Homo sapiens: one gene and its partners. The protein of the gene in region 1 purifies or fractionates together with the protein of each later gene. This does not show direct contact. Each region holds a gene or a part of one and is shown in the gene's direction. Other genes may lie near its edges.

Region 1 (5,580 bases):
AAGAAAAAGTTGTTGAAAACATTAACTATAATACTAGTAGGCACTTAGTAAATGTGGCATTGAGCTGATTTCCACTGTCACCCCTGAGGAGATGAAGCATTTTTTCTCTGAAGACTTCCTCTGGATTTCTGGACACTTCCATGCCCTGCTGTGGCCCCTCTCTTTGCCATTGTATCCTCTCTAGAAGCATGGGCCCAGTCATTCACTTAAAGCACACCAGCTACTCTGTTATAATATGAGGGACTCTTTGGGTACAAAAGATTTGCAAAACACAGTGTTTAAAAAAAGTCAAGCAAATGTACATCTTTAGAATTGTTTCAAGCTTTGCATATCAAACCAACAACTTCCTTAGAGCCATTCCAGCCATGGAAAAAATTATGTGGTTTCTGTTTGGGACTCCGTTCCCTTAGTCTAAGGTTGGAACTAGCCTTATGGCTCCTCCCCAAGATACCAATGATGACTTCCATAATTCTTCTGTCAATTTCCCTGCTCTAAGCTCTTCCCCTAAGCTCCAAGTGTCCCAACACAGTGCTGCTGTCTTTTGAGCTTCTTCAACTGATGATTCCATGCAGCATCAAGACCTGCCTTAGTCAGCCCTTCCCTTGTCTCTTCCTAAACCTACTGCTCTCCTGAATCTCCTAGTTTTCTGTTTTCAGAGGACTGTCTGCCAGGCCTTCAACGACTGACCGCTAAGTCTTTTTCAGGCAAACCACCCACATATCTCCTAAGTAATTAAATTTTCATTAGTCCAGGCATCAGCCGGTAGGAGATTTTTCTCAATACATGTATTATTTGAGGAGTCATTTCCTGCATAGCTTCTAATCAATTTCCCACAGGGACAAAGATCATCATCCCATGTACCCAGAATTGCTTTATTTAATATGCTTGAGTCAATTTATCAATCTGTTTTCAATGCAAGAATTGTATTTTATTCCTCCTCAGTCCAGTAGTTGGCATAAACACTCAGTAAATATCTGTTGAATGAAGAAATGAACCAAACGAAAAAAAATGTGGAATTTTTCTCATGAAAAACACCCAGAGAATTACACAACACCAATGAGACTCAATCTTTACCCACAAATGGCTTACAGTCTAGGAGGACAAACTGCCAAGCCCTTTAGCTGTTATAAAAATGTGGGGCCAACTTAGAGCTAATGGTTTCTCCTGAGTGCTTGTTTGCCCATGAGAAATATTCAGTTACTTCTGACAATATGTCGGTTGTGCCTTCACGGTCCTTACTTCAGATGAAGTCTTTACATTCTATCAAAACCTTTCACTCTAAGAGTTCTTAGTCGTTGAGTTTTGTTTAATTTATAAAACTTGCCGGGCGTGGTGGCTCATGCCTGTAATCCCAGAACTTTGGGAGGCCGAGGCAGTCAGATCACCTGAGGTCAGGAGTTCAAGACCAGCCTGACCAACGTGGCAAAACCCCATCTCCACTAAAAATACAAAAATTAGCCAGGCCTGGTGGCACACACCTGTAATCCTAGCTACCTGGGAGGCTGAGGCAGGAGAATCGCTTGAACCCAGGAGGCAGAGGTTGCAGCCAGCCGAGATTGTGCCACTGCACTCCAGCCTGGGCAACAGAGCGAGACTCTGTCTAAAAATATATAGTAAGAATTATAATAATAATTTATAAAACTTGTTCTTAGTGTCTTTCAGTTAAGAGTAGCATGAAAAAAATACCTCCCTTGAATAAGTCAAACTGAGGCACAACAGTTTCAGGATGGAAGTTTCTGGGTGAAGTTGGGCTGGCAGCTGAACAAGTAAATGATAGCAGCTCTCAGTCCCTCCCCTCCTGTCCTGCCAGACAGTTGTTACCTCAGGGCAGGGGGAAAGTAGCTTGGCTATTCCCGACAGATGGACAGTTGGTAGAACGGACCCTCCCACAGGCCCTCATCCCCTTGTGCAGCTGCTGGCCTCGTAGACAATCGGCTGTCTCCCCAGAAGAGGGAAAGAATTGTGCAGATGAGAAAGAGGCTCTCAGCGGGAGGGAGGCAGGCGGGCTTGATTGACACAGGAGAGGGCTGGCTTTTTGGAGGGCTCTTAGCAACGGCCCTGGTTGAGCCCCCTCAGCCATGAGAAAATCAAATCAATGTGCCATTCTTCCAGGCGCGAGGCAGCAGCGGCTGCAGTTCAACATGAAAGGAGGCTTCCTCCCTGCCTGCTAATTACCTGCTCTTCCCGATCTCATCGTTTCTGCCTTTGCAAAGTGCTACTGAGAAGGGGGAAGAAACGTCCGCCACCCATCCCCCTTGCTGCCTGGGGGTTCAGACTTGATTGTGAGTCCGTGTTATATCATCTGGTCTCATTGATAGGCGGGATAGGGAGGGGGATTCCAGCCCCCCTGGACCGGCCGGAGGTTTATTCTAGAGTTACTGGCGGGTAGCTGTGCTTTTCTTTCCCGTTTGTAGGTGAAACCCCATTGGCTTCATTGGCTCCTTGATTTAAACCACGCCCGGCTTTCTGCCCTCTTTGCTGCTGCTGGGCCAGGTTGCCCAGCCATATCCCAGCCCCGTCTGCAGGGAGCCGGAGGCTGCTGCTGCTGCTATTGTGTGGATGCCGCGCGTGTCTTCTCTTCTTTCCAGAGATGGCTAACAGGGGCCCGAGCTATGGCTTAAGCCGAGAGGTGCAGGAGAAGATCGAGCAGAAGTATGATGCGGACCTGGAGAACAAGCTGGTGGACTGGATCATCCTGCAGTGCGCCGAGGACATAGAGCACCCGCCCCCCGGCAGGGCCCATTTTCAGAAATGGTTAATGGACGGGACGGTAAGGCCGGCAGCGATCTCGGTTGCTGGGGCGGTGGGCAGGGAAACCCTCCAGGGCCCTTTCTTTTAACGTAAGGCTGCGGGAAGAGCTGCTGTTGCCAAGCTCTATGTCTCACCGGGAGGGGATGAGAATGCCTTTATTTCTTCAGGGTTGGAAGATTTGGGCTCCATGCACTATTCCCTAGCTAGCTTGGGGGTTCTCCACTCACCCTAGCATTACATCTCCCTTCTGAGTTGGCAAATTCGAAGCCCTTTTGATTTTTCTAATGAGAATAGAGATAAGTATGTCCTTGTAATTTCCCCAGCCTTCCTGGTGCATCAGCTCTTCTGGGGCCATTTCTTTCCCTAGGGGATCGTGTTGGTTACACAGTAAAACAAAGAAGGGAGGAGGGGGACTAGCCACCTTCACATTCTTGTGGGAGCCATGCACCCTGGAAGTGTTCAGTGTCTGTTTATTGAGTGGATGCGTTCTCATGAAACTGAAAGGAGTCCTTATTTGTTAACTGCATTTCTGACCAAATGCTCGTGTGTGTTTGAGGGTTTGAGGGCCGCAGGCTCTGTGATTCAAACAAGCCCATCCTTTCCTGCAGTCTGTGATTTACTGTTACATAACTGCTATCCAATGCTTCTGCTGGGTTGCCCAGAGCTTGGGTTATATATATATATCTGGGAAAAAGGTACCACATCCACTTCTTTTACACATTGTTAAAATATATGGGATGAGTAAATTGAAGCCTGCTTAATTTGCCTTTTGATAGAAGAAATAATATTAGACTCTATCATTTGAGCTCTGCCAACCTCAGGAGCCACTAAGTCATTCCTCCTTTGAAAGTCTAGAATCACGTCCTCATCACGTCACATCATTCCCTATCTGTAAACATCCTTTCCCTCATCCAGAAAAAGGAAGGGAGGAACAGGGAGGGAATGGCGCTCCCAGGCTACAGGAATCTCTGTAGTAAGGAGCAGCATTAGGAATGGGGTCCTCTGGGTCTTTGGGGCTTAGTATAGGAGCCTGGCTACACAGCCCAGAGCCCGTGCCTTCCTAGGGCCCATGACTTGCTCCTGCCCAAACTGGATGAGCAGTGTCCCACGTGAGCAGGATTCACTTCTCATTCTTGACCTGTAAATACAAAGGGAAACATTGATTCTGTCTCTCCCCTCCCTCTTCAGGTCCTGTGCAAGCTGATAAATAGTTTATACCCACCAGGACAAGAGCCCATACCCAAGATCTCAGAGTCAAAGATGGCTTTTAAGCAGATGGAGCAAATCTCCCAGTTCCTAAAAGCTGCGGAGACCTATGGTGTCAGAACCACCGACATCTTTCAGACGGTGGATCTATGGGAAGGTAAACAGCCCCCTGGCCTTTGGGATTGTTCTTTTCTTCTCTCCTTTGCCCCATCTCCTTGTAAAAACTGCTCACAGTGTTCTTCCCTGTGCCGATTGATGTGTGTAAGATGCTCTCAGCTGTTATCCTGGGGGCAGTGTTTGCCTTCCCCATTGTTATGTTCTATTAAAAGGAGGTACCCTCTTCTAATGGAACACACACCCTGAGGACACAGAGGGGATCTCAGCAACTAATGTAAACAGAAGCCTCAAGCTAGAGGAAGCTAACGGTGACATACTGCCTTTTATTCCTCTTACCACTCCCATAACAAATCACAGCTACCAGAGGAGAAGGGAGGCAGGGGGCCAGTGTGCTTCTTGCTCAACTGCAGCTTATAGACAAAGCCATCTGGGGCTATTTTGTCAATCTGAGAAATAGATAGCACTCCAACCTTTTGTTAAACCTTTATCTGGGAGCTTGGTGACTATGCCTTCCAGATATGCATTCTGCTCAGTGTGACAAGTGCTTGTTTCCTTCACATTTGTGAATTGACTTGCTGAGGAAATCTTACAAAAGCATAAAAATCAAATCACACTCCTGGATGTATTTAATGATCTGCCATTACTGGGGGAAATGATGTGAATGGAGACACTGCCAGAGAATTTGGGACCTATGGTCATGGTGTCGTTAATGTCCCCTTTAGCGAAAATGTGTATACCCAACCATATGACTGTGTTCCTTCTCCACTAGGCCTGCCTGAGGCACCAAGAGATACCAACTAGTCAGAGCAGGACTGTCAGATTGACTCTGCTCTCACATGCTCTTTGTCACTGGCTGTCATTAGTGGCCCAACCAACAGGATCCCCAGGGCAGTGACCCAAATGGCTCTGCTGAGAGTGAGAATGGGGTAGCTTTCCCCTGATGGAGAGACATGGTATTTTAAAGGGTATTCAGATGATGGTTGAAATAGATTTCTAGCAGAGGACCATTCTACTACTCACCACACTATGATTTATAAAGAAACAATTGCCTCCTTAATCCTCGGCGTCATGCAAAGAGCTGGCATTGCATGTTTCCCTCATAGGTGAGTGGTTAAAATCCTACGATGCTAATAAGTTTACCTTGTGGTTTGCCATTATTTAGAAACTCAGATATTCAAAACTGCAGGCCAGGCCAGGCTATGGATCTTGCTGTTGAGCCTCCAAATTCTCATGTAATTTCACAGTTGAGATTTGATCCTTGCTTCCTCGATCAAAACTATGATGATTTTTTCTAGCTAATACAGATAGCTACATAGCTACTGCTTATTGATGTTTTCCTATGCACAAGGCATTGTACAAGTGCTTTATTGCATAATGTCAGTCAGTTCTGCTAACAATCCTATGAGGTAAATGTTTTTTAATTTCCCCATTTCAAAGATGATGATACTGAAGCTTGCCCATGATTTCTTGTGTCCATGAGATAGCAGAGCCAGAATTCAAACCTGG
Region 2 (4,493 bases), on another chromosome or scaffold:
CAGCAATTGCTTTTGGTTTTTAAAGTTATAGGTTGCTACTACATGGATGTGACTAAGAAAATACATAGATTATCTTAAAATGGGCATGATGTAAAAGACTCAATCAGTAGGGTAACTAAAAACTTTGTAGTACTCTAGCTTTGGAAATCTGAGAGGCCTATATAGTTCATTTGAGTGTTTGATCAAATTCTTATTGAGATTACAGCCTGTGCAAAATATTTGTGATGCATTTTTAAGTTTACTTAAGTACACTTTGAAATTCTTTAAAAATTTTAAAATCTTTAAAAGGACACAAGAGTGTACCACATTGAGATTAAAATGTGTTTATTATTAATTTGTACATAATACTATAACAAATAATTGTTCTCAGGTATGTTTAAGGCCTTATTTTAAAAGTTGATTCTTCAATTTCTAATTTAAAATAAGCTTTTAGTTTTTCTCAACTATGTATATGTAATGATTATAGATGCCTAGAGTAGTGTTTCCCAGACAACTAGAACCACACACAAATTAGTACCACCAAAAAAAAAAAAAAAAAAACTTCATGAAGAACAGGGATTACTGGTCAAAAAATACGAGAAACACTTCATTTCTGTTAGGAGTATATTAAAGGCTTTTGAGAAGACCACTAGTTAAATGTGTTTTCCAAACTTGATCACAAAACTCAACTATAATATCTATAAAGTTAGTCCATAGCACAAACATGCTTAAATTTGTTGGATAAATGCATAAACTGTGAAGACATAAACACACTTTGGCAACTGCTGGTCTCTTTAAGAGATGGAATCTACCTTTTAGCTACCAATAAATTCCATACCACATTTCATTGATTTAAAAAACACATCTTTTTAAACATCTCTGAAATAGATCAGGGGAGGCTTGCTATCACTGTTGGCCAAATGGCTTTCACTTAATTGTCTAGGTAACATCATCTACACTTAATTATTATTTCCTAATGACATAATTGGACTATTGCAATCCTTGAGCTTTAAATCAGCAAATCATTACAGAGGAATGTAAGGAATACAAGCCTTGGTTGTTACCTGAAAATCTTCGGTAGGCACCTCCCATTAAACACAGAGAGCATCTGTTCAGATCTTGCAATTTCTATGGAGAAATTTTAGGAATAATCTCATCAGTTTATTTTGCATGTACTTTTTGCTGTTCAAGAGAATTATAAATGACAAAATTGATGGATAAGTCCTAAAGAGTAAACATTGATCTGGGCATAAATTGACAGTGGTTTTTCATTTTTGTAATGTATAATATAAGGTACACTTTTATAATTAATGGTGTCCTAAATACAATCAAAAGCACTGTTTATAATACAGGGTTTTTTTTTTACAGATAAAGCATATGATATAGTCCAGTTGACCCTTGAATAACGTGGGAGTTAGGGGTTCCAACCCCCTGTGCAGTTGAAAATCTGCATAAAACTTTTTTATTTCTCAAAAACTTTACTAATAGCCTACTGTTGACTGGAAGCCTTACTGATAACACAGACAGGCGATTAATATGTATTTTGTTATGTGTATTATATACTGTATTCTTACAATAACGTTAAAGAAAAAATACTAAGAAAATCATAACAGAAAGTATATTTACTATTCATTAAGTGGAAGTGGACCATGGGAAAGGTCTTAATCCTTGTCTTGTGTTGAATATACTGAGGAGAAGGAAGAGGAAGGGTTGGTCTTGCTGTCTCAGGAGTAGCGGAGGCAGAAGAAAATCTGCATATGTCATTCAAGGGTCAGCTGTACTTTCCTTGATAGTTTCACTTATTCTAAAAGATTAATCCTACTTTAGAATTATAGAATTGGTATTTGTACCCCATTCTTGCTAATTATCTTATAGTTTTGTGTGTGTGTGTGTGTGTGTATATATATATATATTTTTTTTTCCTTCTATTTAGTTTAAAGTTCCTGCTGCAACAAGTGCAATTATTACCAATGGTAAGAATTCACTATAAAATTATGTATTACCTCAAATTTATAGAAATGGTGTAAAAGGAACCAAATTAATTAAAATTAAATACAAAAAGCCCCAAGTATATGTATATCAACATAAATGATATACTTACTGGTAAACACTAAGTCAGGGTTATTGTTAATAATTAGCTCCTTTCATTTCTTTGTATATAGCTTTTGATATAGTATAGCACTTTATAATATCTTTTGTCCTTACCAGTTCATGCCAGATTATAACTGAAAATAACTTTATTTAGCAAGTTTTTTTTTTTATTAAGTAAAGTTGTTTGGTAAATGCTTTAGAATATAGAAAGTTAAGCAGGAATGTATCTTTGCTATACCTTTCCTGATAGAAAATTGTTTCTTGTAGGCTTGCAATAATGAGAATTTTATTCCGTTTTAGGTATATAATTAAAAATCTTAATATCTTGGAACACTGATAATCAATGATGATGGAATTAGTCTTGTGAGAAAATAGTGAAATAATAAGATGAGGAGTAAAGATTGCAGGGAGGGCTTAACTGTGTTTCAAGTATACAATGCAGTATTGATGAGTGCTGATGCGTTGCCCAAGTGCAGTTTGGACAGGAGATGGGCTTAATGTGCGTGATGTAACTTAGATAAGGTAGAATTTCTCACTCTAAAATATTCTGCATTCTGTCACATTGAAGTGTTTCTCTGTTGGAAAAAAGCTGGCTTACTACCTGGAAAGTTTTAGGTCATAACTTAGTAACGTGTTGAACTAAATGACTTTGTGAGCTCTCCCAGCCTTAAGATATTATGACCTAGAACAATACGAAGATGATTCATGGCATACCTAAGGGGCTTTTTAGTTTTTTGGAAGAAAGGACAAACATTATTTTTAATTCTATATGGCAAAATAGAATTAATAACCTATATTCCATAGAACTTACCAGGATCATTGCATTGACAGACGTTTTTGTCTAACCCAGCAATGTGTATGAATGCAGAATAATAGTAGATTTCAACAGATAATTTACCTGAAAGATTGTCACTCGTGTTCTTGGATTTAAAGTGTTTGGCTTATGTCTATATACACAACAGCACTATTTTGGCAAATCTCTTTCCTTGCTACTATTTAACCATTTTAGCTTTAGAAATAATGTATGTGATTTTACAACTTATTTTCTAGATGGAATAGGAATAAATCCTGCACAGACTGCTGGTGAGTATTTGAAAACTCATAGAGGAGTGGGTGGGGTTATATATGTCAATTGACACTGAATAGTTAAGCTATTCTAATTACACTTGACAGTATTTTAACATAATGGAGCTGTTTTTTAGGGATTATATACCAGTCTTTACCTGTGTGTCTGAGTAATAAGTTGTTTCATTGTGTATATTGATTGTAGATGTTTTTGGCTACAAGTAACAGAAAACCTAATAGTGGCTTAAGCATTAAGAGTATTTATTATATATAACAAAAAGTCTGTAGATAAGATTGCTTTCTAATTGGAGTATTTTTTGACCTACCTCTTAAGGTAGTTGTGAGATAGTGACTGTAAAGTGCTTCATAGCTTGGATTATTTATAGAAAGCATTCATTAAGTGCTATTATTTTTTTTAAATATAGTCATTTACATTTCAAGGGGCTGAGTCTACATTCAGATCTTCAAACTGTTAAATTTATACAGGTGATATATTGGTGTCCTGACCAGGAGACAGGGTAAAAGTAGTCTCATACTTTATAAAAAGAAGTCTAAAACTTTTTTAAAATTAGTTTTATATTTTTAAAATGTAATCTCTTAGGCTTATAATCTAAAGTTTTAAAATTAGGCATGCTTTAATGTAACCTCATTCTAGAGCAGTAGTTATTTTTAAATTATATTCTAAAGTATTTCTTTATTGTAACAAAATTATGTTGTTTTCACAGGCCTTGCAGTTGAAATTCAGCCATAAAGAAAATGAAGTGATTTAAAATTGCAAATTTTTGTTACTTCAGTAGTTGTTAATATATAATTTTATTAAAAAGGTTTATTGAAAATCGTGAGGCACTTTATTGTATGGATGCCTTTAAACTTAGTAGACAAAGGTTTCTTTTTTTCTTAATCGAGAAACTTTCAATATTTTACAGTAGTTTGAATTACTGCTAACTCTAACATACTGCTTGTTTTATTATCTTTAAAAATTGAATGTGCATATCCTTGATATGAAGAAAATCTCATCAGGCAATTGACCCCAAATATGTCAGGGTATCTAAATTTTTGTCACTTGTAGTAATTTACATTTTTTTTCCTGTCCTTAGATATATTATTGTGTATTGAAGGAAGTATTCATGATTAAATTATTCACAGTTACTTGATGAAAGTATTCGTCAGAGTTTTCATGGCTGGTGTTATTTTAAATTTTAAGCGTATGTTGGATTGTGAAGATAGGAGAATAGGAACAAGACTTAAAAAGCTTGGAATTGGGGTCTCATGATGCTTGAGCTTTTGTACCCATTTTACTGTTTACTAAATCATTTATTATATTTAATAATTGTCAGAATATTAAGATAACTTGATTT
Region 3 (3,681 bases), on another chromosome or scaffold:
ATTTAATGTAGATGACCTAAAGAATGCGTTATCCATCCTATATAAAAGAAAGATAAAACACAGGTCACCAATTTTCTCATTTCACCCCATTTACCTTGTATAGAGGATTGTTCATTCCTTTGGGACTAAGTTATAGTTATGGTGAGTGTGTATTTACTGTAGTTTTGCCTGATCTCACTCATTGCACTTCCTGGAGTTAAATTTTCCAACAGCCATGTTGAGGAATAGCACTCTGCATGTTTTTGTTTTGTTTTTCGGGGTTTTTTTTAATTGAAGCCCTAAACCAGGAATTATTTGTGTTCTAACAGGAGGATGAACTTGCTGAAAATAAAACTTTGCTATGTATTTACTCTTTTTTAAAAGACAAAAGCAAAACCAGACTTTCTACGTACTACTCCAAAGACTGTGATTGTGACTATAATACATTTTTGGTAATTTTTTTATACCTAATTTGTATAGGAAGTGCTATTTCTCATAGGCTGTTTCTTGAAATTTTAAGTTTATTGCTTTAAAATGGCAGTGTTTCTCCCACTTTGATATGCTAACATTTAGTAAGCACTGGCTTTATGAAAGCGGCTTTTTATAAGTATACTGCATTTTTTGAGCCTATCATTAATTAGCTTAGTATGAAAGATAAGAAAATCTCCATGTTGTATCCATTTGGCTCAGGAAGATTCTTTGCCTTACCTTTCTTAGAACTCTTTATTGCTTATCAAAAGTTTGAGTACCCGCTTGGTTTTTTTTTGGTAATTAAATATTGTATGATTTATCTGGTTCAAGGAAGATGCACTATTCAGTTATCTATTGAGAAATTATTTTGCAGTGGTTTTAGTGGGTGAAAATGTCCCATCTGCACCAGTACACAGGCAGGCATTATCATTCTTCACCTACTTTTTAAATAGTGGCAACTTGGGATTCATTCTGGTGATTCTGAACCTTGCCTCATAGCTTAAAGTATAAAAAAGATTCAAGAGCAGTGAGGTTTGTTCTTTCCAGTGAATGGTGGACTGAGTGGTGCGAGGTGGAGGGCTAACAAGAGGAAAGAACTACATTCTTCAGAATACAGTGATGAAAATTCATTTTGAAACTCAAATATTTTCATTTTGGATATTCTCCTGTTTTTATTAAACCAGTGATTACACCTGGCCATCCCTCTAAATGTTCTAGGAAGGCATGTCTATTGTGATTTTGATGAAGACAGAATTATTTTTCTCTGTAGAAACACAGATACCACTTTATCAGGGAAGTTAGTCAAATGAAATGGAAATTGGTAAATGGACAAAAGCTAGCTAGTAAAAAGGACGACCCAGCAACATGCTTTAACCCCATTGTATGTTTGTGGAAAGAGCATAGTTTAACATCTTGAGAAATTTGGGACATAAAGTTTTCATGGTAGACAGTTCATGCAGTATATGAATTGCCATAATGGAAATAATCTGATTTTATTTTTACAACTAACATCCATTCCCCTTCATTTAAACACCTTTTGTGTTTTACTTCAGTGAGGAGATTGGAGTCTGAATGGATCTGTTTTCCAAGAGATTCTGAGAAATTTTTGTATTCAGCAGTTGGAAAGCTCTCTATTCTAGTTGATAAAACTTCCCTTTTTTGATGTAGATGCAGATATTCTATACAGTTCTGTTGTCTTTTACTAGGACTGTAAACTTTTGTGATAAAATTCAAATAAGATTTTATTTCTTGGTAATTTTGGCTTTCACAATTTATCTTTAAATCCTTGAGCAATCTGTATACAATTAAGAGATTTCTGACATTTATTCTTACACTAAATGGATCAACTCTAGGATTTAGGCATGTTAACTTCTGTTGTGTTTTGAATCTCTCCAGAGTTGCATGTAGATAGCATTTATTTCTGTGCCCTTAAACCCATTTAGAAAATAACTACAAAGTAAAAATGTAGAGGAAATAGAAATGTATTTTTTCATGAACATTTTGATACAAATTTCATCATTTAATGATTCACCAATTTCTTGCATTAATTTGAATTTAAGCATTTAATTCAAAGAGAGGGGAGCATCCATTATTGATACATGTGGGCTTTTAAAAACTCCATCCTTTATAAATAGTCAAGGTTTGGGCCACACAAAGTATATTTTTATCATGGAAAAATTTCAACTCCTCAAGCCGTAATGTTGAACAGAATTGGAGTATTTTCTTTATAATTTCTTGAACAGGCAAATGAAAGCTTATTATAGAATGCATGTATTTTCTTTTATCTTTGGAACATCAGCACCAGTATATTGCTGGCAGCTATTGTATTAAAAAATAAAGTATATTTTCACTATCATAAAGGATTCTTTTTTCCCCCCTCATGAAAATAAACAACAACTTGGGGTAAAAGTGTTTGAGACTACTATTTTTTTTTCTATGAGTGATTCAGCACATTTAATAGGTTAAAGGAGAAAAACCATAGGATCATTTCAATAGGTACAGAAAATAACTTGATTAAAATATTCATGCTACTCATTCTTAGCAAAATAGGTAACTTTTTTTTTAACCTGATAAAGACTTTTATTGAGAACCTATAGCAAATGAAACAGAAGCGATCTCGTTAAAGTCAAGAATAAGACAAGGTTGCCCTCTATCACAGCTACTATCCAGCTACTTTAACAGCTACTTTATTTAGAGATATCCTAGCCAATGCAGTAACATCAGTGAAAGGAATAAAGAATGGAAAAGAAGCAACAAAATGACTGCCCTTTGCAGGTAATGATGTTGATGGTGTGTATGTGTATAAAATCCAAAATAACTTACAAATACTAAAAATAATTCAGCTGGATTTCTAGTTGCAAGATCGAGGAACAAAATTTAATATAACTACTATATACAAATAGTAAGCACATTGAAAGCCAATAGAGAAATTGGTAACATTGGTTTTTTTCTGGAGGAGAATTGGGTGCCTGAGGTAAAGGGGTGGGAAATTATCAATGTATACTTTTAAGTTTTTAGAAATTGGTAAATATATTACCTATTCTAATAAACAAAAAGTGCTTTAAAAAACGAATAAAGATCCTAAGTGATTGAGGATCAAATCAAACAATGTGCAATTCCTAGCCAAGCATGGTGGCTCATACCTGTAATCCCAGCACTTAGGGAGGCCAAGGTGGGAGGATTACATGAGGCCAGGAGTTCAAAACCAGTCTGGGCAATACAGCAAGACCCTGTCTCTACAGGAAAAAAAAAAACAAAAAACAAACAAAAAAAAAAGCCAAGTGTGGTAGCATGAGTCTGTAGTCCTAGCTACTCGGGAGGCTGGGGAAGGAGGATCTCTTGAGCCCAGGAGTTTGAGGCTATAGTGAACTATGGTTGTGCCACTGTACTCCAGCCTGGGTGACAGAGCAAGACCCTGTATCTTTTTTTTTTTTAAGTGCAATTCTTTATGGAGAAAAGTACAAGACATTATTGAAAGGCCTGATAGAAATTTGTTCAATGGATAGGCATACCATATTTATGGATGGAGAGCTCAAAAGCATGAAAATTTAAATTCTGACTACTTATAAATATATTTGCCAACAAGATCCTAACAGGTGTTTTTGGAAACTAGATAAATGGATTCAAAAATTCATGTGGAAGAGTTATGCCCCCAAATAGCCAACATATATTTGAAGATGGGGAAAGAGAACTTGTTTGACAAGATACCAAGACTTAATAAAAACTTACAGT
Region 4 (4,493 bases), on another chromosome or scaffold:
CCTCTGCCTCCTGGGTTCAAGCGATTCTCCTGCCTTAGCCTCCCGAGTAGCTGGGATTACAGGCGCCCGCCACCATGCCTGGCTAATTTTTGTGTTTCTAGTAGAGACGGTGTTTCACCATATTGGCCAGGCTGATCTCAAACTCCTGACCTCAGGTGATCTGCCTGCCTCGGCCTCTCAAAGTGCTGGGATTACAGGAATGAGCCACCACACCAGGCTTTGTTTTGGTTTTGGCCTACTCTGGTGAGCGTTCAGTACCATTTCATTGTGGGTTTTTTTGTTTTTTTTTTTTGAGACAAGGTCTCACTCTGTTGCCAAGGCTGGAGTGCAGTGGTGCGATCTTGGCTCACTGCAACCCCGCCTCCTGGGTTCAAGCGATTCTTGTGCCTCAACCTCCCAAGTAGCTGGGATTACAGGTGCGCACCACCACACCCAGCTAATTTTTGTATTTTTTGTAGAGATGGGATTTCACCATGTTGGCCAGGCTGGTCACTGTGGTTTTGATTTGTGTTTCCCTGATGATGAATGAAGTTGAGCACCTTTTCATGTGCCTACTGGCCATTTGGATATCCTCTTTAGACTGCTCTAATTTTGTCCATTTTAGAAAATTAGGTTGTCTTTTTCTTTTTCTTTTTTTGAGACAGAGTTTCACTCTTGTTGCTCAGGCTGGAGTGCAATGGCGCAATCTTCACTCCCTGCAACCTACACTTCCCGGGTTCAAGTGATTCTCCTGCCTCAGCCTCCTGAGTAGCTGGGATTACAGGTGTGTGCCACCGTGCCCGGCTAATTTTGAGGTTTTTAGTAGAGACAGGGTTTCGCCATGTTGGCCAGGCTGGTCTCAAACTCCTGACCTCAGGTGATCCACCTGCCTCGGCCTCCCAGAGTACTGGGATTACAGGTGTAAGCCATGGTGCCCGGCCGGTTGTCTTTTTCTTGTTGATTTATAGGAGTTTTGTATATGTTTTGGATATGAGTCTTTTGTTGGTTATATCTATCCCAAACATCTTCTCCCACACTATGGCTTGCCTTTTTACTCTCTTAATAGTATATTTTGAACAGAAGTTCTTTTTTTATAGTTTATATTTTCTTCTTTTCTTTCTTTTTAAAATTTTTTTCTTTCTTTTTTATTTTTGAGATAGGATCTCACTCTGTTACCCAGGCTGGAGTTCAGTGGCTCTAGTCTTCAGGGATCATGGCTCACTGCAGCCTTGACCTCCTGGGTTCAAGGACTCCTCCCATGTCAGCCTCCCAAGTAGCTGGGAGTACAGGAACATGCTACCATGCCTGGCTAATTTTTTTTTGGTTTTTTTTTGTGTGTGTGTGATGGAGTTTTGCTATCGTTGCCCAGGCTGGAGTGCAATGGCACGATTTCAGCTCACCACAACCTCTGCCTCCCAGGTTCAAGCAATTCTCCTGCCTCAGTCTTCCGAGTAGCTGGGATTTCAGGCATGCGCCACCACGCCTGGACAATTTTGTATTTTTAGTAGAGACTGGGTTTCTCCATGTTGGTCAGGCTGGTCTCGAACTCCCTACCTCAGGTGATCTGCTCGCCTCGGCCTCCCAAAGTGCTGGGATTACAGGCGTGAGCCACCGGGCCCGGCCACCTGGCTAATTTTTAGTTTTTCTGTAGAGAGGAAGGTCTCCCTATGTTGCCCAGGATGGTCTCAAACTCCTGGGCTCAAGTGATCCTCCTACCTTGGCCTCCCAAAGTGCTAGTATTACAGGTGTGAGCCACTGTACCTGGCCTGAACAGAAGTTCCTAATTTTGATGAAGTCTGACTTATCAATCTTTCCCTTTATGGTTAGTGCTTTCTGTGTTCAGTTTAAGAAATCTTTGTCTGTCAGGCCAGGTGCGGTGGCTCCTGCCTATAATCCCAGCACTTTGGGAGGCCAAGGCAGGTGGATCACCTGAGGTCAGGAGTTCGAGACCAGCCTTGCCAACATGGTGAAACCCTGTCTCTACTAAAAATACAAAAATTAGCCAGGCATGGTGGTGCATGCCTGTAATCCCAGCTACTCGGGAGGCTGAGACAGGAGAATTACTTGAACAACCCAGGAGGCGGAGGTTGCAGTGAGCTGAGATTGAGCCGCTGCACTCCAGCCTGGGTGACAGAGATGAGACTCTGTCTCAGGAAAAAAAAAAAAAAAATTGTCTCTAGGTCATGAAGATATCCTTCTATTTGTTATCTTGTAGAAGCTTTATTATTCTATCTTTCATATTTAGGTTTATGATTCATCTGGAATTGATTTTTTTGTGTGTGGATTTGGTAGGGGTTAAAGTTCATTTTTTCCCCATATGAATATACTGTTGACTCAACAACCTTAATGCAAGAAAAAAAAACCTTTATTTGCTGCATTGCAGTGGTATCTTTGTCCAATCAAATCACCATGTAAGTGGGTCTGTTTCTAGACTGCATGGTTTTGGCTTAACTTGTAGCAATAGATAAATGAAGTTATTTATCCAAAGTAGATTAAGTCACATGAAACCTGAAGAAACTAAGGAATGAGAAAGGAAAGTCGGTATATAAATGGAGTGTGTGAATGTGTGCATGTGTGTTTGCATATCTGTGTGCATATTTGTACAAGTATGTATCTGTGTGAATGTATGTAGATCTGTGTATGTAAATATTTTCTTAGCATCTATTTGGCCACCAGGGCTTTTCTCCTGAGTGTGAGTGCATAAGTGCATGTGAGCATGCACAAGTATCTTTGTGTATTTGAATATCTTAGCAACCTTAGCAAATGCATGCGATTGTATTTGATCTTGTTAGCATCCATCTGCATGTACCTCTGTGTAGCCAGAAGGGTTTTCTTCTTTGCCTCAGTTAGTACCCAGGGCAAAAGCTTAATGTATTCTACTCAGAAAGTAGTTAAATAAGACTGTTTCTCTAATATATATTTTAGTTGTAGGAATTAGGAAGTAGCATCATAGATGCTCCTACACTAAGCTGGCCCTGCTTCCTATGTTAAATATGACACATCTGAGGCCCTGGGAGAGGAAGTGATTTGCCCAGTCTCACACAATGAGTTAGAGCCAGAGTGAAGTCAAAACCCAGTCTCTGGATGTACAAGCAAGGTCTTTTTCTAGTCCCAAATGGCCTTTTGTGGTGGTCCAGGGACTGCCGGGAGCAGTCGTGGAACTGCATCATTTACAGAAGGTCTGATCTTTGAGTCAGAGTCACAGAAGAATTGAGAATAGCTGTTGGGCCTTGGGCTGCTGGACTGAGATGACATGTGGACATCAGGATGACAAGGCTTCTGAAGCAGAGGCTGGGGGAACCAGAACTGCTGGACCAGCACCTGGGGGGGGGTTCTGGTTTCAAACAGCCCTCTTAGTACAGAGTCTGGAGGCCACCTCTGACCAGCTAGGTCACCTTACACTGTTCCCTACAGTAGGGGATAATGTAACCTTTGGGTTTTCCCTTTTGGGGGAAACTTAGGAAACCTTAGGAACCTTATGCGAGGACTCAACCTGAGGCTGGAATAGCTGGGAAAACAGAACTTTAGGTGGAGGAAGTGGCATAAAAAAGTTGAAAAGTCTGGCTGGGCATGATAGCTCACACCTGTAATCCCAGCACTTTGGGAGGCTGAGGTGGGCAGATCACCTGAGGTCAGGAGTTCGAGACCAGCCTGGCCAACATAGCAAAACCCCATCTCTACTAAAAATATAAAAAAATTAGCAGGCATAGTGGCAGGTACCTGTAGTCCCAGCTACTCAGGAAGCTGAGGCAGGAGAATCCCTTGAACCCGGGAGGCGGAGGTTGCAGTGAACCGAGATCACACCACTGCACTCCAGCCTGGGCAACAGAGGGAGACTCCGACTCAAAAAAAAAAAAAAAAAAAAAAAAGTTGAAAAGTGCAGAGGAATTTGAGAAAGGTATGACCTGAAAAGGACACAGAGGGAAGGGAAGGAAGGGGAGAACAGAGAGGGTTATAAGCAGGCCAGAGCCGGATTGTGAAGTGCCTGTATGCAAGGTAGGCATTTGGATTCTGCTCTGGGGAGCTATTGAAGTATTTTGAGCAGGGGAGTAATAGAATCAGATTTGTGTTTAAAGAAAAAAAAAAATCAGTCTGGATGCCAAGTGGACAATGAAATGGAGGCGAGTAAAAGAGGATCAAAAAGACCAGTTAGGAGGTTGTTCCTGTGTACAGGTGAGATAAGCTGGTGACTTGGTCGTGGTAATAGAAACAAAGAAAAGGCCAGGCACAGTGGCTCATGCTTGTAATCCCAGCACTTTGGGAGGCCAAGGTGGGTGGATCACCTGCAGTTCAGGAGTTCAAGACCAGCCTAGCCAATATGGCAAAACCCTGTTTCTACTAAAAATACAAAAATCAGCTGAGTGTGGTGGTGGGCGCCTGTAATGCCAGCTACCTGGGAGGCTGAGGCAGAAGAATCGATTGAACCCAGGAGATGGAGGTTGCAGTGAGCCGAGATTGTGCCACTGCACTCCAGCCTGGGTGACAAATTGAGATTCTGTCTCAAATAAATAAAT

What was found. The genes of interacting proteins can lie anywhere in the genome.
Region 2: the proteins of TAGLN3 (region 1) and UFM1 fractionate together in Homo sapiens (co-fractionation; one large-scale study listed by BioGRID). This does not show direct contact.
Region 3: the proteins of TAGLN3 (region 1) and CLIC4 fractionate together in Homo sapiens (co-fractionation; one large-scale study listed by BioGRID). This does not show direct contact.
Region 4: the proteins of TAGLN3 (region 1) and FKBP1B fractionate together in Homo sapiens (co-fractionation; one large-scale study listed by BioGRID). This does not show direct contact.

Annotation. Positions count from the first base shown.
Region 1 is NC_000003.12:111,996,833-112,002,412, forward strand, and holds the start of TAGLN3 (transgelin-3), read left to right. Parts: upstream 1-2,089; 5' UTR 2,090-2,282; intron 2,283-2,414; exon of another isoform or gene 2,415-2,588; 5' UTR 2,589-2,590; coding exon 2,591-2,770; intron 2,771-3,939; coding exon 3,940-4,114; intron 4,115-5,580.
Region 2 is NC_000013.11:38,356,181-38,360,673, forward strand, and holds part of UFM1 (ubiquitin-fold modifier 1), read left to right. Parts: intron 1-1,912; coding exon 1,913-1,952; intron 1,953-3,120; coding exon 3,121-3,153; intron 3,154-3,860; coding exon of another isoform or gene 3,861-3,886; exon of another isoform or gene 3,887-4,493. UniProt on the Homo sapiens protein: Ubiquitin-like modifier which can be covalently attached via an isopeptide bond to lysine residues of substrate proteins as a monomer or a lysine-linked polymer.
Region 3 is NC_000001.11:24,841,964-24,845,644, forward strand, and holds the end of CLIC4 (chloride intracellular channel protein 4), read left to right. Parts: 3' UTR 1-2,358; downstream 2,359-3,681. UniProt on the Homo sapiens protein: In the soluble state, catalyzes glutaredoxin-like thiol disulfide exchange reactions with reduced glutathione as electron donor. Can insert into membranes and form voltage-dependent multi-ion conductive channels.
Region 4 is NC_000002.12:24,056,071-24,060,563, forward strand, and holds part of FKBP1B (peptidyl-prolyl cis-trans isomerase FKBP1B), read left to right. Parts: intron 1-4,493. UniProt on the Homo sapiens protein: Has the potential to contribute to the immunosuppressive and toxic effects of FK506 and rapamycin. PPIases accelerate the folding of proteins. It catalyzes the cis-trans isomerization of proline imidic peptide bonds in oligopeptides.